Linked DNA regions of Homo sapiens. The protein of the gene in region 2 interacts with the protein of the main gene of each other region in a biochemical or structural test. Each region holds a gene or a part of one and is shown on either strand. Other genes may lie near its edges. The genes, in order: ANXA6 and CR2.

The links.
Region 1: the proteins of CR2 (region 2) and ANXA6 form a complex in vitro, tested with the Homo sapiens proteins (one study listed by BioGRID).

Annotation. Positions count from the first base shown.
Region 1 is NC_000005.10:151,146,713-151,156,984, forward strand, and holds part of ANXA6 (annexin A6), read right to left. Parts: intron 1,215-10,272; 5' UTR 1,190-1,214; coding exon 1,172-1,189; intron 1-1,171. UniProt on the Homo sapiens protein: May associate with CD21. May regulate the release of Ca(2+) from intracellular stores.
Region 2 is NC_000001.11:207,455,112-207,465,383, reverse strand, and holds part of CR2 (complement receptor type 2 isoform 1 precursor), read right to left. Parts: intron 1-10,272. UniProt on the Homo sapiens protein: Serves as a receptor for various ligands including complement component CD3d, HNRNPU OR IFNA1. When C3d is bound to antigens, attaches to C3d on B-cell surface and thereby facilitates the recognition and uptake of antigens by B-cells.

The DNA.
Region 1 (10,272 bases), on a different chromosome or scaffold from region 2:
CCATCGTCACACTGACTGCATGGCTTTCTCCAACGCCAGCCAACAGACAGCACCCTCAGGCAAACCCCAACAGAGTAGAGTGGGGTTTTTTGTTTTTTGAGACTTGCTCTGTAGCCCAGGCTGGAGTGCAGTGGCATGATCTCAGCTCATCACAGCCTCAATCTCCTGGGATCAGGTGAGTTTCCCACCTTAGCCTCCTAAGCAGCTGGGACTACAAGTACATGCCACCTTTGTATTTTTTCTAGAGACAGGGTTCTGCCATATTGTCCAGGCTGGTGTCGAAATCCTGCGCTCAAGTGATCTGCTCACTTCAGCCTCCCAAAGTGCTGGGATTATAGGTGAGAGTCACCGTGCCCAGCCTCAACAGAGCACAGTCGAGGTCAGAATCCTACCTCTGACCATGGCCAGAACCTAGTCTCAGCCACATGGGAGTAAAAGTTCTCAGGTGCCTCCAATTCTATTGCCCGGCAGAACAGTCAGACATGAGAGACTGAGGTTAGAGTCTCCCAAGCCAAGGAAATTCAATCCCAAATGGGTGTGACAGAGAACATTTCTATATCCAGAGCAGAGAAGTCAACAAGGATGTCTTTCTACCTGTCAAGTATCCATTTCCCTTCGTCAGGCCAAACAGTTCAGGTGGGACCAACTCCACCTCCTTGCTCCAAGAAAGAACAGGTTACTCAGGCACAGCCAATGAGAACCAGACCTGGGCCTTCCCCTGGAATCACTGGGCATGAGTTATGTTGTTTTCTCCCTGGGCTGCCAAGACAGCAGAATGGAAGCCTGGAGCTGCTGATGACTACCATGCCAATGCAAGGAAGAACCTACCCAAGAATGAAGCCACCGGAAGAAGCCCAGCTCACACAGGCAGAATCTTGACACTATCATTTGGAAACCCCTGGATTCAACCAGACCTGAAGCCCTGGGCCTCTCTGTCAGATAAGCCAATACACATCCTTTTCTGCTTAGGATATTGTGGGTTATATTACATTATGGTGACCTGCATCTGAAGAGCCATGACTTGTAACAGGAGCAAGCAAAGCCTAAGAACCTTTCCTCCTTTTTTCAAGCTGAAGGTACCAGGGGTCTCTGTAGCAGGCCTAGTGGCTCCAGGAGGATCCCAGGCCCAGAGAAGGCTGAGTACCACCTTCAGGAAAGAGAGGCCCCTTACCTGTGCTGGTTTGGCCATGGTCTCCGGTTCGCAGCAGAATCCACTGTAGAGAAGAAAGACAGCATGTGAGATTCCCCCCAACTCTAACCATCCCCTTTCTTTCCCTTACATTTCCTCCCTCTGCTGTTTTCCAGCTGCCCCCAGCCCTTCAGGTTAAATCAGACCCAATGACCCAGCTCAAGGCCAATCACATTTTTTTCAGAAGACAATGGACAGACTAGATGGTGTCCAGACATTCACAGCAGTATGGGAAAGGGACGCGGATCCCCAAGGGAGGGCGGGCATGGCACTGACCCACCACTGACCCCTTGACTCCTCCACACTAGGCAGGGTACCTGTCTCAGCACCGTCTCAGTTACTACTCTCAGAAATCCTTCCACACATCAGATTCTCCTTTTTTATAGAGAGGAAACTGAGGCTGGAGCATCGCAATAAATGAGCCAAGATCACACAGCTTAGAACTGAATTCAACAATTTCTAGATCCCAGAGTCTATACTATCTGCACCATGCATGCCCCCTTTTCAAGTCAACAAGGATGGCTTCAGAACCCAGAGCTTGACCGCCTGCAGATAGGACTCAAAGTGCTTCCAACCACCTGCTGCAATATCTGAAGGACTGTCATTCCTGAACAAGTGAGTATGCACTCATTTAGCGCCTATCCTAGTCAGGCATTGCTCTGGGCACTGTGCATGCAGAAATATGAGCAATTTTTTAAATTCTGTTTCTCTAGAGCTTATGCTGTAATGGGAATGAATAACAAATGCACTCATCAGGCTGAGATAAGAACTACAGAGAAAAGACAAGGCTTGGTCAGGAAAGTGACAAGGGGTGTAGTCCCAGGTGGAGGGGTCAGAGGATCTCACGAGTGTGACTGGGGCACACCGCGGGGTGGTGCAAGTGAGGAACCACCACGAGCTCAGTGTGGCTGGTGTGGTAGCAGGGAGTGGTGTGGTAGGATGTAGGATCTGAGACCGGTGCCTGAGGCCACTGTAAAGACTGGATTTTTCAGGCTGGTCGTGGTAGCTCATGCCTATAATTCTGGCACTTTGGGAAGCTGAGGTGGGAGGATAATTTGAGCCCAGGAGTTCGAGACCAGCCTAGGTAACATAGTGAGACCCGATCTCTATTAAAAAAAAATAAAAAAAAAATAGCTGGACATGGTGGCACATGCCTATAGTCCCAGCTACTTGGGAGGCTGAGGCGAGAGGATTGCTTGAACTCAGGAGGTGGAGGCTGCAGTGAGCCAAGGTTGCACCACTGCACTCCAGCCTGGGTGACAGGGCAAGCCCTGTCTCAAAAAAAAAAAAAAAAAAAAAAAGACAGGAACACACAGGAAAACAGGACACATATCTCATTGAAAATGGATAAGGAATGCGGGTGGAGGATATCAGGAGACAGGGTCTACAGTGAAGGAACAAAGATATGATACGTAAAAATAAATGCAAAAAGAGATGTAACTGATTTGGGAAGTATAAGAGAAGCAGGTAGGGAGCTGGCTAATGAGCACTCAGGAGGGCAACAGATGAAAGTTTAACAATCTTCTTAAGAGAAGGAGAAGAGAAACAAAGGACCACTACTTTCCACTTTAAGCAGGTCTGGGCAATTTGATCTCTTTTTTTTGAGATGGAGTCTCGCTCTGTTACCCAGGCTGGAGTGCAGTGGCGCAATCTCAGCTCCCTGCAACCTCCACCTCCCGGGTTCAAGCGATTCTCCTGCCTCAGCCTCCTGAGTAGCTGGGATTACAGGTGCACGGCACCACACCTGGCTAATTTTCGTATTTTTAGTAGAGATGGGTTTCACCATGTTGGCCAGGCTGGTCTCGAACTCCTGCCCTTGTGATCTGCCCTCCTCAGTCTCTCAAAGTGCTGGGATTATAGGCGTGAGCCACCAAGCCTGGCCTGATCTCTTTTAACAATGTCTATGTATTGCTTTTTAAAAGTGAACATAACAGAGGCCAGGAGCAGTGGCTCATGCCTGTAATCCCAGCACTTTGGGAGGCCAAGCGGCAAGGACCACCTGGGGCCAGAAGTTTGAGACCAGCCTGGCCAACATGCGAAACCCCGTCTCTACGAAAAAATACAAAAATTAGCCAGGTGTGATGGTGTGTGCCTGTAGTCCCAGCTAGTCAGGAGGCCGAGGCAGGTGAATCGCTTGAGCTGGGAGGCAGAGGTTGCAGTGAGCAGAGATGGCACCACTGCACTCCAGGCTAGGCAACAGAGTGAGACTCTGACTCAAAAAAAAAAAAAAAAGTAAACATAACAAAGTCAATCAGATTTACCCAGTAAGACCTAAAAGGAACAGAACTAGGAGAGTAGAAATCATGGAGACATTTCAGCTCAATGCCTTCCAGTTCTCCACATATTCCCTGTTCCCCCAAGACTTAGGGAAAATCTTAGCCATGTGACCGTGGGCTTATTGCTCATTTTTGAGTTCAAGGTGATCTCAAGCACAAAACTGAAGCTTTCCCTTTTCTGCTTTGTAGGGTTGTTGGAGGATAAGACCTAAGTTATGTCAAAGGCAGCACATAAGAGGCCAGGCACAAGACCTGTTCTTAGTAAATGGTGATATTTACTGTGCTGGTGGGAAGTTGAGGACAGGGCCTCTGTCGTGTTTGCCTCTGTGTCTTCACTGGCTGATTATGAGTTCCCCAAGCTGCAGTCAGCTGAGGACAGTCATCATATGGGGTTGGGAGTGGAAGGCAGAGGACGGATCTGCCTGCAAATGCAGCTCAGCTCAGCTCAGCTTCAGGAAACCTTGCTGTTTCCCTGGCAACCAGGGGCCCCTTGGTACAACTGTGCAGCTCTCACCAGGAAATGGAAACTGTACCCCCTTTCCAGTGTGTGGTGGGGGGAGGAGGGGGCCCACATCTACCCCGGGATGAGGCTGGAGGCCAGCTCTCGGTTTCCTCTGACCTGGGGGATAGTAGGGGGAGACAGTGAAGGAAGCCCAAGGCTAGCAGAGAACCAGGGACTGAATGAGACCCAGGAAGTTAGTTGACACAGACAGAGGGAGGGCTGAGGCCTGTCACCTGCATCTCCAGCCTTGAAGCACTTTCCTCTGGGCTTGTTGCTGGCAATTTCAGCTGCTGGCTGCAGCCCAGGCCCATCTGGAGGAGCTCCCCTTTCCAAGGAGAGATGGCTTCAAGGAGGGGCCTCTTACTGTTTGGGAAAATATTCTCAGCTCTGAGAGCAGTTTCTGTGTGCCTTGTGTGAGTGCACAGTTCATATGTAAAAAGCAAGCTCCTTCCAGAACTAGATGTTCAGACTGCAGTTCTGAGGGCCAGTCCCCCTGCTGATTCCACAGCCCCGCCTCTGAGGGTTCTGGGAAGCTCCTGAGCTAATCATAAACACACCATTTACCCTGGCTTTAAGATGGCTTCTGATCCCTCCCAGAGCAACCTAGACCATACTGCTCAAATTGGCTGAATATTTTACATCTAGTGTTTCTGAATCCCACAAGGGCCCTTAATAATCCATGACTCCAAGTCCCTCATTTTCTAGACGGGGTAAAGGCATCTCAGAAAGAGAAAGTGACTTGCCAGGGCCCAGGAAGCAGCCAACATCTCTGCCTAGCAGCCCTCGATCATAACAAGTCCCCACACAACTGTGGGTCTTGGCTGCAATGGGACACCAGGAAGAGTCCAAAGAATAAGACCCTGGTTCTGGTTCCCAGTCTGCCCCCATGTAACCTCAGGCAAGCCAGATCCCTCTCTCAGCCTTAGTTTCTTCATCTCTAAAGTGGGACAATACATCACTCCCTCTTTGGTAGGATCTATAGTTAGAGGCTTTTAGAGACTTCAACTCAGGATTTTCACAGCAGAATATCAGTCCTAGGAGGGTCATCTCCCAGGCCACAGGATTCCTCCCCATCTCCACCCGCCAATATGCAACATTCATCACCTTGGTTGAAAGAGCTGTTCAAGACTAGTAAACAGGGTCATTCCAGACCTGTGCCTCTTTCCTCCCAGGAACCCTGATTCTCTCAGATCTAGATGAGATATACTGTGACGACTTATCATGACTGATCATTCGTGAAACCCACACAGGAGCAGAATGAATGGCCTGGGTGGCTTTGTGCTGCTGTGGCCACCCCTTGCCTCATCCTTTTGCCTGCAATCAATCACGTTTTCCTCCTTCCCCTTCGAGAGTTCCAGGCTGACTCTAGAAGGAACGGCTCACCACTGCCCAACCACAGAGATGTGGATAGGGGAAGGGTTTTATCCAAGTCATGTGAAGGCATGGGCCTTCAGGCACAGATGTTGCCCAGCAGTTTGTGATGTAAGTAAGTTACTTAAACTGAATCTCAATTTCCACATCCGCAAAATGCAGATAGAAATACCTATAGGTACTGAGAAATAAATGAAGTAACGGGGGGAAAACACTTAGCACAGTGCGTGGCACACAGTAAAGGCTCAATAAATGGTGGCTTTTATTATAATAAGCCCAAACATTTACAATGGAGGCAATGTGGCATTAGAATCAATGCAGGATTTGTGGTCGATGCCCAAGTTCAAATCCTGACCATGCAAATTCCGAGCTCAGTAACTTGGGCAAGTTATGGAATTTCTCTGCCTCAGTTTCTTCATCCTGAAATGACCCTCTTGTAAGGTTTTTGTGAAGATTCAATGAAATAAGGCAGGTAAAACACTTAGCATGGCCAGGTACAGATTAAATGTTTAACAAACGGTGACTTCTGTTGCCACAATCATCATTATTACAGCAGTAGTCTCCAAAAAGGGGTAATGGGTATGACAATCCACTGGGGTGCAGGACAAGAGTATCACCACTTTCCAAATGTTTTAATCTTGCCCTTTTATGTCCCATTTTTATTTGTTATACATGTATAAAGTTAAAGAAAATATTAGGGGTGCAGGCTGATAGAGGTGCACAGTCAAAATCTGGATTCAATGGAATGGAGGCAGGGGCATGCCAGGAAGAATAGTAACACCAGGGTAAGAAAAAGCATTTCTGTCATCGAAAGGTAGCTTGGGCTGTGGAGGAACAGAGTACACTTTTGAGGGAAAGGAGATGTTGAGCGTAAGGGGGTGAAACCAGGTGTGGTGGGAGGGTGATTTGAGAAAAAAGAAATAATATGGAAAATCATGCAAAAAAACCCACCCAGACCTCTGCCTCAGGGGAGTGCCTGAGGGGCTACAGCCTGAGCCACAGCACTCCTCTGCTCACAAGTCTCCAATGGTGCCCCTTAATACTGGGCCTCTAAGCTCAGCAGTCGAGGCCATTGGTTCTCCTTACTGACTTCTTTGCCATCACCACTTTCCTCTTTGCCCTGTCTTCCCTGCTAAACCAGGAACGCCTTCCACCAACATTTTTAATCCAGCTTTCCAGAATCTATACCAGTGCTTTTCAATTCTAGCTTCACTAACAGAACCTGGGGAATTTTTCAAAACTACCAAAGATTTAAGGTCAGCCCTTAGAGATTCTGACTCAACTGCTGGGGTGAGGCCTGGCCTTTGGTAATTTCTAAAAACTTTCCTAGGTGATTTTAATGGCAGCCAAGGAGGCTGAGAACCACTGTTATCTGCTGGATTCAAATGCCGCCTTTTCTAACAAGCCAGAAGGTATTCCCCCGCTAGGGTGCTCTGAAACCACCTTGATTTGACTGGCTTTGGTCAACCACTGTGGATTTATCATTTCTCCATTAGATAAGGGCTGCCAGCCTCCAAGGTATTATGGGAAAGAATCTGTACTTCAAAGGAAAACCCTCCAGGTTGTCTGACTCGAGACTTTCATTGTCTTTGAGTGATTTTACAGGTCAGTAAGTTGCAAATAATTGATGGTAACACAAAGTAATTCTAATACATACTCCTTGCCCTATTTTGTAAAGGTCCAATTGATTTCCCACCCCCTCAGGTAAAAAAAGAGTTTTGTCTCTAATTGCACATTTCTTTCAATACAAATGTGTCTTTTGAGCTGGTTATAACATCGGCCTGGTGTGGTCATTGATTAATAAGTAGAACAGCACATGATCATTTTTGTATCTGCATGAGTCATAATTTTACACTTTTTAGAAAATTACTGCATATGCCTCTTTCCTGCACCCCCTCCCATAGGGCGTGGCTCCTATGGATGGTTGGGGGTAAAATGCACTAAGTGGCTTTCATGCTTTCTTTAGTGACCTCAGCAAATGGAACCATCTACTATTGGTTTTCAAACTGTGCTTTACTCCTCTTTCTATAGCCAGGAGATAAACTAGAGAGGTTAAGTCACTTACCCAACATCAGAAGAAAATCAGTCATCAAGCAGGGGCGTGTTTTTCCATAAACATTTATTTGAGCACCTCCTACAAACCAGGCCCACTGGTAGAAGTTGGGGGTTGAACAGAAAATGAGACAGACAAGGCTCCTGGCCCCACAAAGCTGGTGATAAGGTGATGTCATATGGCAGTTTGCAGTATATATATATATATATATATATATATATATATATATTGATCCCATACACAACCCATAACCAAAGAAAAATTGAGTATTTACCATGATAAACAGAAATATACCTTTAAAATATGACATTAAAAGTACATTTAATAAGGAGTCCAATAGTTTCTTCCTGTACCCCCAAAAGATCATCTTCAGTGCGTCCTGGGGTATATCCATCCCACTTAGAAGGCCCCTGGCCTATAAAATCTAGATCCTTCCCTCTTTGCCCTTTCTTGCTGGCTTCTCCCCCGGTCTGCAGGAAGACACCCAGGACCCGCTCCATAACCCTCCAGGAGCCTTGATTCTGATGAAGCTGGGGTAAATGCCTTCCCTGGCTCTGTGCGTGGGCACACCCCCCAGCTTGACGACTGGGGTTTCTTAGGGAGCAGTGTCTTTTCCTCTCCTGACCCAGAACCATTGATCCTAGGACTGGACAAGGCCTCAGGAGATCATCTCTCTGCCTCAGGATTGGAACTAGTCTAGCCTAGGTTTGAACCCCAGCTTGGGTCACTTTTGTGAGAGGCAGCAAAGTAGTGTCTCACAGTATAGATGCTGGAGCCAGACTGCCTGAGATTGAAGCCTGAGGGTGATATTTAGTAGCTGTGTGGTGTTGTGCAAGTATTGAGCCTCTCTGTGCCTGTTTCATATTAAAAAAAAAAAAAAGGGATAAAAATAGCACCTCCCTCATAGGAGTTATGATGAGGATAAAAAAAATTAAGACAAGTCTAGAGCTTAGAAGAGGACCTGGCACACAGGAAGCACTATATTTTATAAGCATTTGTCATTATTATTTCTTCCTTAAACTGTTAAGGGCTGGAGTTTCCATGTCTGCAAAATAGGCATTAATAACAGCGTCTAACATAGCAAGGCTTCAGCCGGGGCCTGGCAAATTTAAGGGTTCGAGAGGTAATAGTGGTTACCATTTTATTGCTATTATTTAAGGACCACCAGGACATGGATTTTTCAGAAGAGGAACTTGAGGCTCAGGTCGCCTGCCTTCTCAAGCACCACACCCTTTTGAGATAACACAGCACTTTTATATCTGCCATCTTACAGCCTCATGAAGGTATCGATCTCATTCTCATTTTGCAGATAGGCAGGACATCCAAGGAACCTATAGACAGTCACTCCCCCATAGCCAGTCTCTGTGGGGGCTTCTCAACTCCAGGAGGAAAGGGAGTGAGGCTGGATTCCAAGGCAAGTTTATAGGCATAAAGACACCCCTCCGACTTCCTCCCCTCTATTGGCAGGAGAAGGGGTGCATGCATGCTCAGGAATCACGGTAGAGACCACATCCTGTGCTTTGTCGCCACCCAGGAAGTATATCGGAGAGGCTGGGTGGGGTGAGGCTGGTGATTCCACTGGGCCTCCCCAGAAAATCCTAGAATGGTAGAGCAAAAGCCATTCAGACCCAACCCATTTTATTAATACCAGTGGGGTGTCCTGGGTATATGTCCTATCCCTGTAGAGAGGAAGGGGCTAAGCCCCAGAGGGGTAGTAGGTGTGCCCAGGGCGCCTAGCTGATTAGTGGCAGGGCAGGGGCTGGGTCCGAGGCTGGATCCTGGTGGCCCAGGGCTCCCTCTGGATGCTGCAGTGCGGATGTGCCAGTCACTGGCAGCTATCCAGCACTGCAGTCTCCCCCACTTCATCCCAGGAGTCAGTCTCAAGAGGCCAGGCCTTGGGCTTCCCTGGCCCCTCCTCTGCACACTCACATCTACATTTTGCCCCAGCAACAGCTGTGGCCCTTATCCAGAAACTGCAAGTATTTTCTGTATCTCAGCAGATGCTGCCTTAGGAACAAAGGGTAGATAAGGCAAAGAAAGATGGATGAGTGATTGTCACAGCTGCAGAGGGGGATGAAAGCCTCTGCCTCCTGCCCTCCCCAGTCCCATCCAACTCCCAGAATCCTAAATCTTAGAACAGTTGAATCCTAGAATGTCTGCACTGGCAGTGGCAGCCAGTTCAGCAGACTTTGCTCCAGATGGGGCACAAAGCCTTAGAGAAAGGGCTTGCTCAAGAAGTCCCAGCACATCCGGACTGTAACCGGGCTTTCCTCTGACCCCAGGCCAGTGCCCTCGGCGTGGCTCAGGGCCTGCCTGCTAGGAGGTCAGGGTCCACAGGGGCTGAAACTGGGGCGGTCATTCACTTCACCATGAAGGGCTACGCAGGTCAGGATATGCCATCTGGGTCAGTGGAAGCAATCCCAAGCATGTTTTGGGCAAGGGGGAAGGAATAATGGAGGGAAAAGGGCGGACTCTTGGGGGGAAACCAGAGTCCTTTCACAAACCCGGGAGCCATATGTCCAAATTTGGAATTGTCAGAGAAGACCCACTAGAATCTAGGGAAAGGAAGGAGGAGGCAGGAAGCCGTGGCCAGATTAGTTGTCCCAAAGGACCTCCTGCCCTTTCCCCTTGTAGGGCCTACAAGGGTTGTGCCAGGCTTCCCAAATCTATAATCAAGACTCCCAAACCTGCAATCATTCCATACAGCTGACAAATAAATCAGTTTTCAAAGCCATTGTTTCCTTTGAAAGAGACTGGGTTTCTCAACTATGGACTTGGAGAAGGAAATCCAGGCTCAGAGAGGGAAAGCCACCGCCCAAAGTCACACTGCAACAGGGGCTGGGATTCCGATTCAGGGTATTTTGCTCCCATGCTGGTATAT
Region 2 (10,272 bases):
CTTTGGTGCTATCTGCTTTTTTAAAAAAGCATCTTTTAATTTCCCCTACAATAACACAGATCTAGCACTGCCCCAAAATACAAAAGAAGAAAAAGTCCTACATCTGCAACATTTAGATATTACTTTCAAAGTTTACTTTTAAACTCTTTAACTAGGCAGGGTGTGGTGGTTCACGTCTGTAATCCCAGCACTTTGGGAGGCTGAGGCAGGTGGATCACCTGAGGTCAGGAGTTCAAGACCAGCCTGGTCAACATGGTGAAACCCCATCTCTACAAAAATACAAAAATTAGCCAGGCATGATGTTGGATGCCTGTAATCCCAGCTACTCGGGAGGCTGAGACAGGAGAATCGCTTGAACCCAGGAGGTGGAGGTTGCAGTGAGCCAAGATCACGCCATTGCACTCCAGCCTGGGCGACTGAGCGAGACTCCATCTCAAAAAAACAAAAACAGAAACACAAAACAAACAATAACAATAAAAAACTCTTTAACTAGAAAACTCAACCACATATACTATCTTCCTTCTGCTCTTTCCATAGGTACCATATATCTATTTCCCAGAAAAACCTTGTTTTATTTCTAGATCCTGAAGTTTCAGCCCAACTCACCCCTGAAGCACTTTGGCAGTAGAGGATTCTGTTTGCTGTTTAGTTGACACCATATTACATTGCTGCCTTTCAGGGTAAAACCAAGCTTACACTTAAATATCATGTATCATTTTAAAAAAATGAACATAATCCAGATTCCACAACTCCATTTTCAACTTCTATAATTGAGCATTCAAGTAAGAGTAATACACTGAAGAGGAGGGTTGCTCCAGAGCTCCAGACATCAACTTGATTATCTTTGCTGGTGCAATGCATTGACTTCTCATCCAAGAGGTCAAACAGCTTTTCCCTATTACATCCAATATGGCACTGATGATTTCATAGCAAACCCCTCTCCCTGCTGCTGCTGTCAAAGTCCCATGGGGGATGGCTGGGAGTGACTTACAAGGAATACCTTTTTAAGGAGTAGGTGGGGAAAGAGAGAATATTATACTTTCTGAGAATTTTCTCTTCATTCTTGCAATCCAAACTGCAACTCAGCCTACAATTTACCTATTTTGTTGAAATTCTGTATCCTGATCTCAAAGATGATTCTAAATAGGAAGTAGCAAGGTCAAAAGATATATGGAACTGGCTGATAAAAACCGAAAAGCTATGAGCTGGTCACCAGTCCCCGCCCCAGACCACAGATAAATTGTTATAGAAGGGACCTAGGGTGGCTTACTTTTTGCATGGAATAAAGTTGGCAGTGTGTAATCTCCTGGAATGTTTTAGATGTAAGCATTTACTCACTATGAAATAACTTATAATCAAAGGACAGTAAACAAAGGAACGTGTGGTAGGATTGGGGGCCATGAGGAAGATGGGTAAGTCATAGCTGTGTGCCTAGAGCTACTCAAACCAAGTGTAAACCCTCCTGGCTACTCACTTTGGTGTGCAGATGCTCAATTTCCCTCTGGAAGGGGACAAGAGGAATTAAATAGGGTGCAATAAAGAGATTGTTTTACTTACATTCATTAAAAGGCATGTCATTATCCCAGGTTACAATATTGTCTGAGATAATACATGTAGCAGATGAGTCACCAAAGAGTAGATATCTAAAGACAAAGAGATAAGAAATCTCGCGGCACACGTTTACCCTGTAACAAAACTGCACATCCTGCACATGTACCCCAGAACTTAAAATAAAAATAAAAATAAAGAGTGATCATCTCCCAGCTAGACTTACATTTTAGAAAAACTTAGTTCTTTCTCTACTGAAAGAATAGCAGAGAATAGAATATCATTTATGACAAGCAGGGGTGACAGATTAAGGACTCATACAATTTAAAGCCAAATGAAATTCAAGCTCCTGGTCAGTAGCACTGGAGACTTAAAACTGGAAGAGAGCAGCCAAAACTTCCTTCTCTTCTAGGGATCCTCTCTAGCTGGTAATCTTGAAGCAGTGTCTCTGGAGTGGATCAGGGAGGTGATTCCTTTTTGCTTATTTATTTTAAAAAGTATGTGGCAATTACTCAGATCTCTTTTGGAAGAGTGATGGTTTCTGGTTGGAACTGCTGTTCTGGTATCCATGTACCCAGGAACTGTCTCCTGCCAACTCACCCTTTATTACAAGAATATGTCATTGTCAACCCAAATGCAATACCCATGTGTGTAATCACAGAGTCCTAAAGGAGTTCTCTATGACTCACACATGATTTATCTACAAAAGAAAACCAAATCAACCCAAACAGAATTTGAGGCTGGGATTCAGGAGACTTTTTGGAGACTTTTTGTGTTTTATATTAAATCTCAACCTGACTGGACTTGCTGACAGGCCTGCTTATGTTTACTCACAGAAATTCTTACATTTACAAAACTTTCCAACGGATCAGTCAACTCTAGAACACTACTTGTTTAATGCACACAGTCTGCATTTCTGTGCATGGATGCCAACTTTATTTGTGGTCAGTTATAACTTATAGTCTTCATTTTCCATTTTTATACATATTCTGTTAATCTATGATATCATCTACCAAGTCTTCTGCCTTAAAAATCTCACAGTGATCATTTCCTTTTTGTAACTCATCCTCTAACTCATCCTCTACTCTCTTCTCTTCATTCAATTACTTACTGAAGTTTAGTGACTGGACTCCAGAAATCTCTCTCCAAACCAACTATTTTGTCATTGCAGTAGTCTCTCATTGGATCACTGAATGACATAATTTACTTTTCTAATTGTTCTCCCTTGGGCTGGTACACCTTCTATACTACTGCACATTTATCTTTCTAAAACACAAATGTGGTCATGCCACTCTGCACATTTAAAAACTTACTATGACTTACCACTGTTTATAGGGAAAAAATGCATATATTTTTTTACAAGTAAGCTCCAATCCATTTAATCAACTACCATTCCTCACTATGTAGCCTATACTCCAACAACACTGATTTTTTCCAGAGACATCATGTTCTTGCACACTTATGCTTTTGCAAATGCTGTTTCCTCTGCTCAGAGGGCCTATAGTTCTCTAATTCTTCTAGGTAGCATTTATGATTTATTTCTCTATGACCTCATAGCACTTCTTAAATAAGAGAACTACCTCATAGTACAATATATATTTAAGAGTTGGCCTTTACAACTAGTGTAGGAGTTTCTCAAAGGCAAAGACTATCAGATTCATTTTTATGTCACTCCCAGGCCCCACTGTCTGGTCTAGAGCTTAGTATCTAGTAGTTACTTAAAAGTATTTTTTGAATTGAATGGGATGAGGATGAGGTAATATTAACATCTCTTGTCTCTAACTTCTAACCTCACCCTAACACAGTATGGATACCATAGATCAAAGTCATAAAGATCACAGGATGAATAGGTTTGGCCAGCTATCATGACTTAACCCTCATACCCAGTGCCCCTAGGAGTAAAAGGAAGCATGGAGCACTCAGGAGCCCTCTTCACTTGAGATGACATGTGAATTTACTGGTCTTTTATCTTAAACATAACATGTTATCTCATCCAGATACAGCGACAGACCCAAATATGCCTCTATTACAGGATTACTCACCTTTACAGAACTGCTGAGCATCTGACCACTTGAAGATCTCTAGGGAGGTGACAAAGAATGCCTCTTGATATACCCAAGAAAGCATTTGTATTTGCAAGATATCTCAACAGCAAACTTAAGATTGGTTACTCTGAATTTTAGGCTTAGCAAAAGGAAACCTTGGCAGAAACTTACCCTGACCTGAGGACCTGAGACAAAGGCTACAGAAACATAAAAACCAAGAGAGGCTAAAACCTCTTCTCTGCTTCTGCCTTGTTACCAATTATCCTGAAAACTTTGATCTTTAGAATGAAAGTCTAAAATAGGGCAATATTTTATGGAATGAAGAATGCATATCATTGCAGTAAGGGTGAATATACACAGAAATAAGCTCAGAGGTTCAGAGAATTTTTAGGGTAGACTTCAGAGATGGAGAAAGTAATTTTTCATAAAATTTCAGAAAATCCTCAGAATTGTTCCATCTCCTTCACCCTTACAAGTAAAAATTAGTGGTTTTAGTTTGTTTGCTTGTTTTTTCACAGTGAGGTCAGAGTCTGGGGAAAACAGGAAAGGCATGTGGCAAGGGCCTTGAAGGATGATTACATATGTTTTGATTTTTTTTTATAAGGGTGGTAGGGGGAGCGGATATTAATATTTTTCCCAGCTTCAATGAGGTCTTATTTATACACAAAAAAACTGCACATAACTAATGTACGCTATTTGTGAATTTGTGGGACAAAAAGGTAAAAATCTTTAAATACAAACTTTCCCAGGATAGCATAAGAAACTAAAGTATATAAGAGATCTTGTAAAAGCTCAGTACACATATGATCCTGAAAATTACTTTAATGAATTTACATAACTATCTTAGCTATTAAACCGTTAATGCCTAGAGAGGAGAAAATATGTTGATTATTCTTCATTATTTTATTCTGTTAATCTAGTAGAGTAATATGCCACCAAAGAGAACTCAGTAAATACTTTCTGATGGGAACTAGATAAAGGGACAGTCATTTCAACACAGATTCCTGTGACTTAAAGTAACAATATTATTATTAATAATGGAACAGAAGTTATTCTAGGAGATAGGTAAGAAACTATAGCAATGATACACTTAGGGATATAGCTGGAAAAGTCATTTTTCTATGTATGAGAACGAGCTCAAGTTTCAACGCCCTAAACTGACAAGCAGAAAACAAGAAGTTAACTCTTCTTCCAGATCAGATGGTAGTCCAGGCAAAAAAAGAAAGTACTCAGTTGTAAGGCCCTCCTAGAATAGCAGTGTATTTAAATATCAAATTTATAATCTCCTTTTTCAAACAGGTCTGAGACAGGTACGGGTGAAAGTCAAAGTATAAACATGGATGAACTGACACAAGGTCACACACAAAGCTCCCAAAACACAGCCAGACCTTAGCTGTGACCCCAAACTACTACTGGAGAAGTCACAAAGACTGGTTCTAAGAATAGGCATCATTATTGGGAGCCAGATATCACTATAGGTCCCCTTCTATTTATTTCCTCAGTTTCTTTAGTTTTCTCCATTAACAACTACAAAAGTCTCCAAGTGCTTACTCTGTGCAAAATAGCAAGATTCTATAAGGAATATCAGGGTTTGACCTCAATGAAGACAAACTTCATGATCCTGATACTACTTGTACTAGTGACTCTAGTCAAGTGACTTAATCTGTAATTATCAAATGTAAATAAGGACAATATCAAATTATCCTCCACAAGCTGGAAAACCAATTTAAATTTACACGATTTAATCAGTGGCAATGACATGGACGAAGATGGAATGAAGATCCAGAAATAGCAAAAGCAGAAGGGTGCTTCACAGCATAACTTTCCATGATGAAAGGAGATACGGATCACACTTTCTGGATGATAAAAAATGGGAGGGTCTCATTTCCAATAAGGAGACTTAAGGGCTATCTTCCTTTGGGAACATCAATCCTCATTAGTAACGAAAGCCAGAATCCCAAGTCACAAGGCAGATCATATCAGAAAAGGGAAGGTTAAGCCATGGGCCATCAAGTAATACAAATTTTCTTGAGGGTCACTGGACCCTCTTCACATCTTTCTGTAGCCAGGAGTAAAACTCAGAGGAGATCATGACTGGATTGAAGATCAAAGATGGTGACTTGACATTCAGACACATATCCTTCCAACCATGTTTAAAACTAACAGGCGAAGCAGTTTCTGAGTTAAATGAACAGAGATATATTTAATTACTTGGGCCCAGGGACTTTACCTGGAATGGCTTGGAAATCCATTTGAAATGGATGAAAAACAAACATATAGGATAATAAAAATAAAACTGAAATTTTAGTCAGAAAGCAGGTAGGAGGGAAAATCATTATTGAGACTGATAATTCATATAATCAAATACCTTAATACTGGGTTTCCTGCCTATTTGATAAGCAAGTTTTGAATGATGATGTGAAAGTTGTCAGAATCAAAATAGAGTCACTAATGTAATAAAAAAAAAAACAACAAAAAACACCTTCAGAAAGCCAGGGAAGGCCATGAAAATAGGGTTCTCATGCTTGTATACCTGTTAACCCAAACTATCATAAAAGACTGAAAAACCACAACCGTGCACAAAAGCCACTGCAACCCTACAAGAACATCCTTCCGGCATCTGCCTGTATAACCTCAAACTGGCATCATCCTTGTTATTGGTCTTTGTAGCCAAGGATAATTATTCTAAAACAATTATGTAATCCTCATATTTTTCCTTTAAAAACCTTTGTCTTCTTTTACTTCCTTGAATATACACACAATTCATAATCACACACATATTCCCATTGCAATGTTCTATTCCCAAACAAATATCTTTTTTTTTTAGGGTCTTTCCCTGTTTGTTATTTAGTTTAACAACAGTTATGCATATTAACCAAAGTTCAGTCCTAAGCACAGGAGATGTATCTGTGAACATCAGAGACAAGGTTCCCACCCTCATAGAATTTATAATCCAACAGAAAGAGACAGACTGTAAATAGATACCAGGAAATAAATAAGAAGGTGCTGAACATGAAATATGAAATAGAGTGATATGTCACAATGTAATGCACTGGAAGGAGAAGGGACAGGGTGGCATGCAACTTCAGTTATGATGGTTAAGGAAGGCCTGTGAAAAGGCAACATTTAAGTTGTGACTGAAGGACAAGAAGGAAGAAGGAAGCAGCCAGGCAAATTGCTGGGTACAAGTATTTTAGGCAGAGGCCTAACAGGAGGAATGGATTTGGTATGCTCCAGGGACAGACAGAAGGCAAGTGTGGCTGGGATGCAATGAGCAAAGCAGAATGGTCCACGATCAAGTCAGAAAACTCAGCAGGAGGGATCATGAAGGGCTTTTTAGACCACAGATATGTGAATATTATCCTGAATAGAAGTCATTGGAGAGTTCAAGCAGGAGAATCACAAGGCCTGACTTACATTTTTAAAGGAATATTCTGGCAATTGGGTAGAGAGTGGATCGAACTGCTTACTTTTAGAAGCAAAGAGTACAGTTTAGGGCCAAAAAAAAAAAAATGAAGCTTGGCAAAGGATTGAGCAGTGGATATATTTTAGAAATAGAATTGGCAAGATTTTTTGTTGTTTTACATGTGGGGCTGAGGAAATGGGAGGATTCCTGACTTCTAGACTTCTGACTTGGGCTACACAATTGATAGAATTACCCTGTTCTGAGGATGGAAAGCCTGAAAAAGGAGTGTGTGTGTGTGTGTGTGTGTGTGTGTGTGTGTGTGTGTTGTGGCCTTGAGGTAGGGAATTGTGTTCAGAATCATTTCCATTCAGACTTGGTATATCTAACACACTAGGCATCCACATCAAGATGCCAAGTAGGCAGTTTGCAGCTCAGGAGAGAGGACAGAACTATAGATAATAAATATGAGTCATCAACATATAAATAGTATTCAAAGCCATGAGACAAGATGAGTTGAGGTTTTTTAGGAAGAAGAAATGAAGAAAGAAGAGGCTCAGGGCTGAGCCCCAAGACCCTCTAATATTTAGAGATAGAACAAAAAAGACTAAGAGACAACAGGGAAGTATGGAAAAAACAGGTAAGAGTGTCTTGGTTTGGAAGATGAGAATGATAATGGTTTCAAGGTAAAGGAAGTCATCAGTTTTTGCTGAAAGACTGAGAAAGATTAACATAGAAAAATGACCATTGGATTTATCAGCATAAGGGTCAGTAGCGACATTGCAAGAAACAGCTTCAGGAGACTGTGGGGAAGAAGCCTGTCTGAAGTGGAGAAGGAGATAACGAAATTTGAGTAAGTAGTCAATGAAAAGTTTTGCTGAGAAGAACAAGAAGAGGGACAGGAAAATGGAGTTCCAGTGGGTCATGAGAAGGTCCATAAAGGATTTCCTGGGGTATACTTAAATGCTGGTGGGGATGATCATACAGAAAGAGGTACATTGATGATGCAAGGTAGGAGATATCTGCAGAAGTAAAGTCCTTGCAAAGGCAAGAGGGTATGGAACATGATCATGAATACAGGAAAAGGAGCTGAATTTGTCAGCAGAATGGATACTTCTTTCATTGTTATAGGAGGAAACATACCAAGATTTCAATTCATATTTATTGAATTCCAAATTACAGGCTATTGATAGGAACTCAAATCAGGAAATAAGGCAGATTAAGGTCTTGCACTCATGGAACTTGTATTCCAGTGAGGGAACAAACAACAAACAGGTACATAAATAAGGAAGAAGGTTTTAGATGGTGATAGGTGGTCTGTAGAAAATAGAACACAGTTTTGTATTGGAGAGTACCCTGGAATATGGATACTTCAGACAAGAGTCAGAGAAGCACAACAGAGGGCTGAGCCTTGAATGTCAAGGAGACAGGCAAAGAATAATTTGTAGGAAGAGCATTTCAAAAGAGAGAATACCTAGTGCAATTGTGCTCAAAGAATAAAGAGAAGGCCAGTGTGGCTGGGGCAGAGAGAGTGAGTGGGGTACAGAGAATTTCAGGGAGAGGCAGAAGGCCTCAGACTGGAGAATAAGGGGTATGGGTTTTATTCTAATGTGACGGGAAGGCCTCAGCAGGTTTTCTGCAGTGGAGAACAAAATCTGATTCTAGATGGAGGTAAGTTTGTAAGTTGGTAGGTTTGTAGCCGATTAGAAAATGGGAGCATTCTTGTTTCATGGTTTTGTTTTCTCAGCATAGGATAAAGTTAGGTGGCCACTGAAGGCTTGAGTAAAATCTAGAAGTGTAGGAAATTTGAAACTGTTTATGCAAATAGACAAAAGGAAAAATAGGAAAACACTAAAAAGGAAATTTGCTTCCATTGACTTTGCTTATAGCAGTGTGCCCTATAGATACTTGTTGCAGAATCTTCTAGAGTGATTGTTAAACCTCAGCTTTCCTGTGCTAACTCCAAACCTATGAACCTCTGGAGGGGGAGGTGGAACCAGGAACCTACATTTTATAAAGGTACTTTAGTATTTTATTAAGCACACTCAAGTGCAGGAACTGGCCAAGAGATGATGTGTGGAGAGCATGCAGTAGCAGTAAAAGTTAGCAGTGGAGAGTGGGCAAAGCATGAGCCATGGGAGACAGGTGGGGAAGACCATGAGCAGCGCATACAAGACAGGCAGCTGGAGAAATCAGGGGGTGTGAGCTTCGGTGAGATCCCATTCCAAAGGGCTAGAAAGGCTGAAGACACCAGATTTTCTTCCACTGGAGGCCTTTTAGATTTTTGAACAATGGAGTGAAATAATGAAAATATATATATTTCTTAATTTTTTGTTTTCATAATTGGAAAGTGACCTATAGGTCACTCTTTAACCTTTCCAATCATAAGAACCAAAATCTCTTAAAAGAGATGAGGTTGTTACACAGGTAATTATAATGCTTAGGATGGGAATACTGGTACAAAAATGAGAAATGGACAAACAACAGAAGCACAGTAGCTTGAATGGCTGATAGGTAGACCTGGTATTTCATGGGGCTCCAGTTAAGTGACCTACATGATGCTGCTGCTGTGGCCCTGAATTGGCAGGACTGGTGAAGAATTTGATTTTCAGTTGATAATATCCTCTTTGAAATTTAGAAATAGGTGAGAAGTCAGGGACGTACTCTGCTCTTAGAAAAAGTGTGAATATACATTTGTTCAAAGGGAGTTAATATGCAGAAAAAGAAAAGAGATGAAGATAATGGTCTGGAGAAAGGTTTAAGGGTCAGGAGACAGTAAAATGTCAGGAAAGCAAAAAGTTGTAATAAACTAATATGTGCTGTATTCCAGACACCTCAATAAGCTGGATGTCCATAGAAACAATTGGACACCCAGCTTGTTAGCTTAAATGCTGGCTCCATAAAATCAAGTCTGTACAGGAGGCTTATTACTGATATTTAGTAGTAACGACTAACATCCAACTTTCTTTGCTTAGTTTCATCTGTGCTCAGGGCAGCTCAGTGAGGTGGAAGGCCAGTTAATCACTAGTTTCATTTTACAGATGAAGAAACTGAAGATCAGGGAGCTAAATGACTTGCCAAAAGTCACCCAGTTATTGAGGTCTGCACACAGTAAACGTCTTATAAACTAGGAATGCACGGTACCGTGGAGATAATTAGAAACTTAGACCCATCCTGTAGCCAAGAGACGCTAATCTTAATTATAATCTTTCTTTAAAATCAAGCCAATCTGGAGGAAAAAAAGATATAATAAACGGTGAATGAGACCTTTGCGGA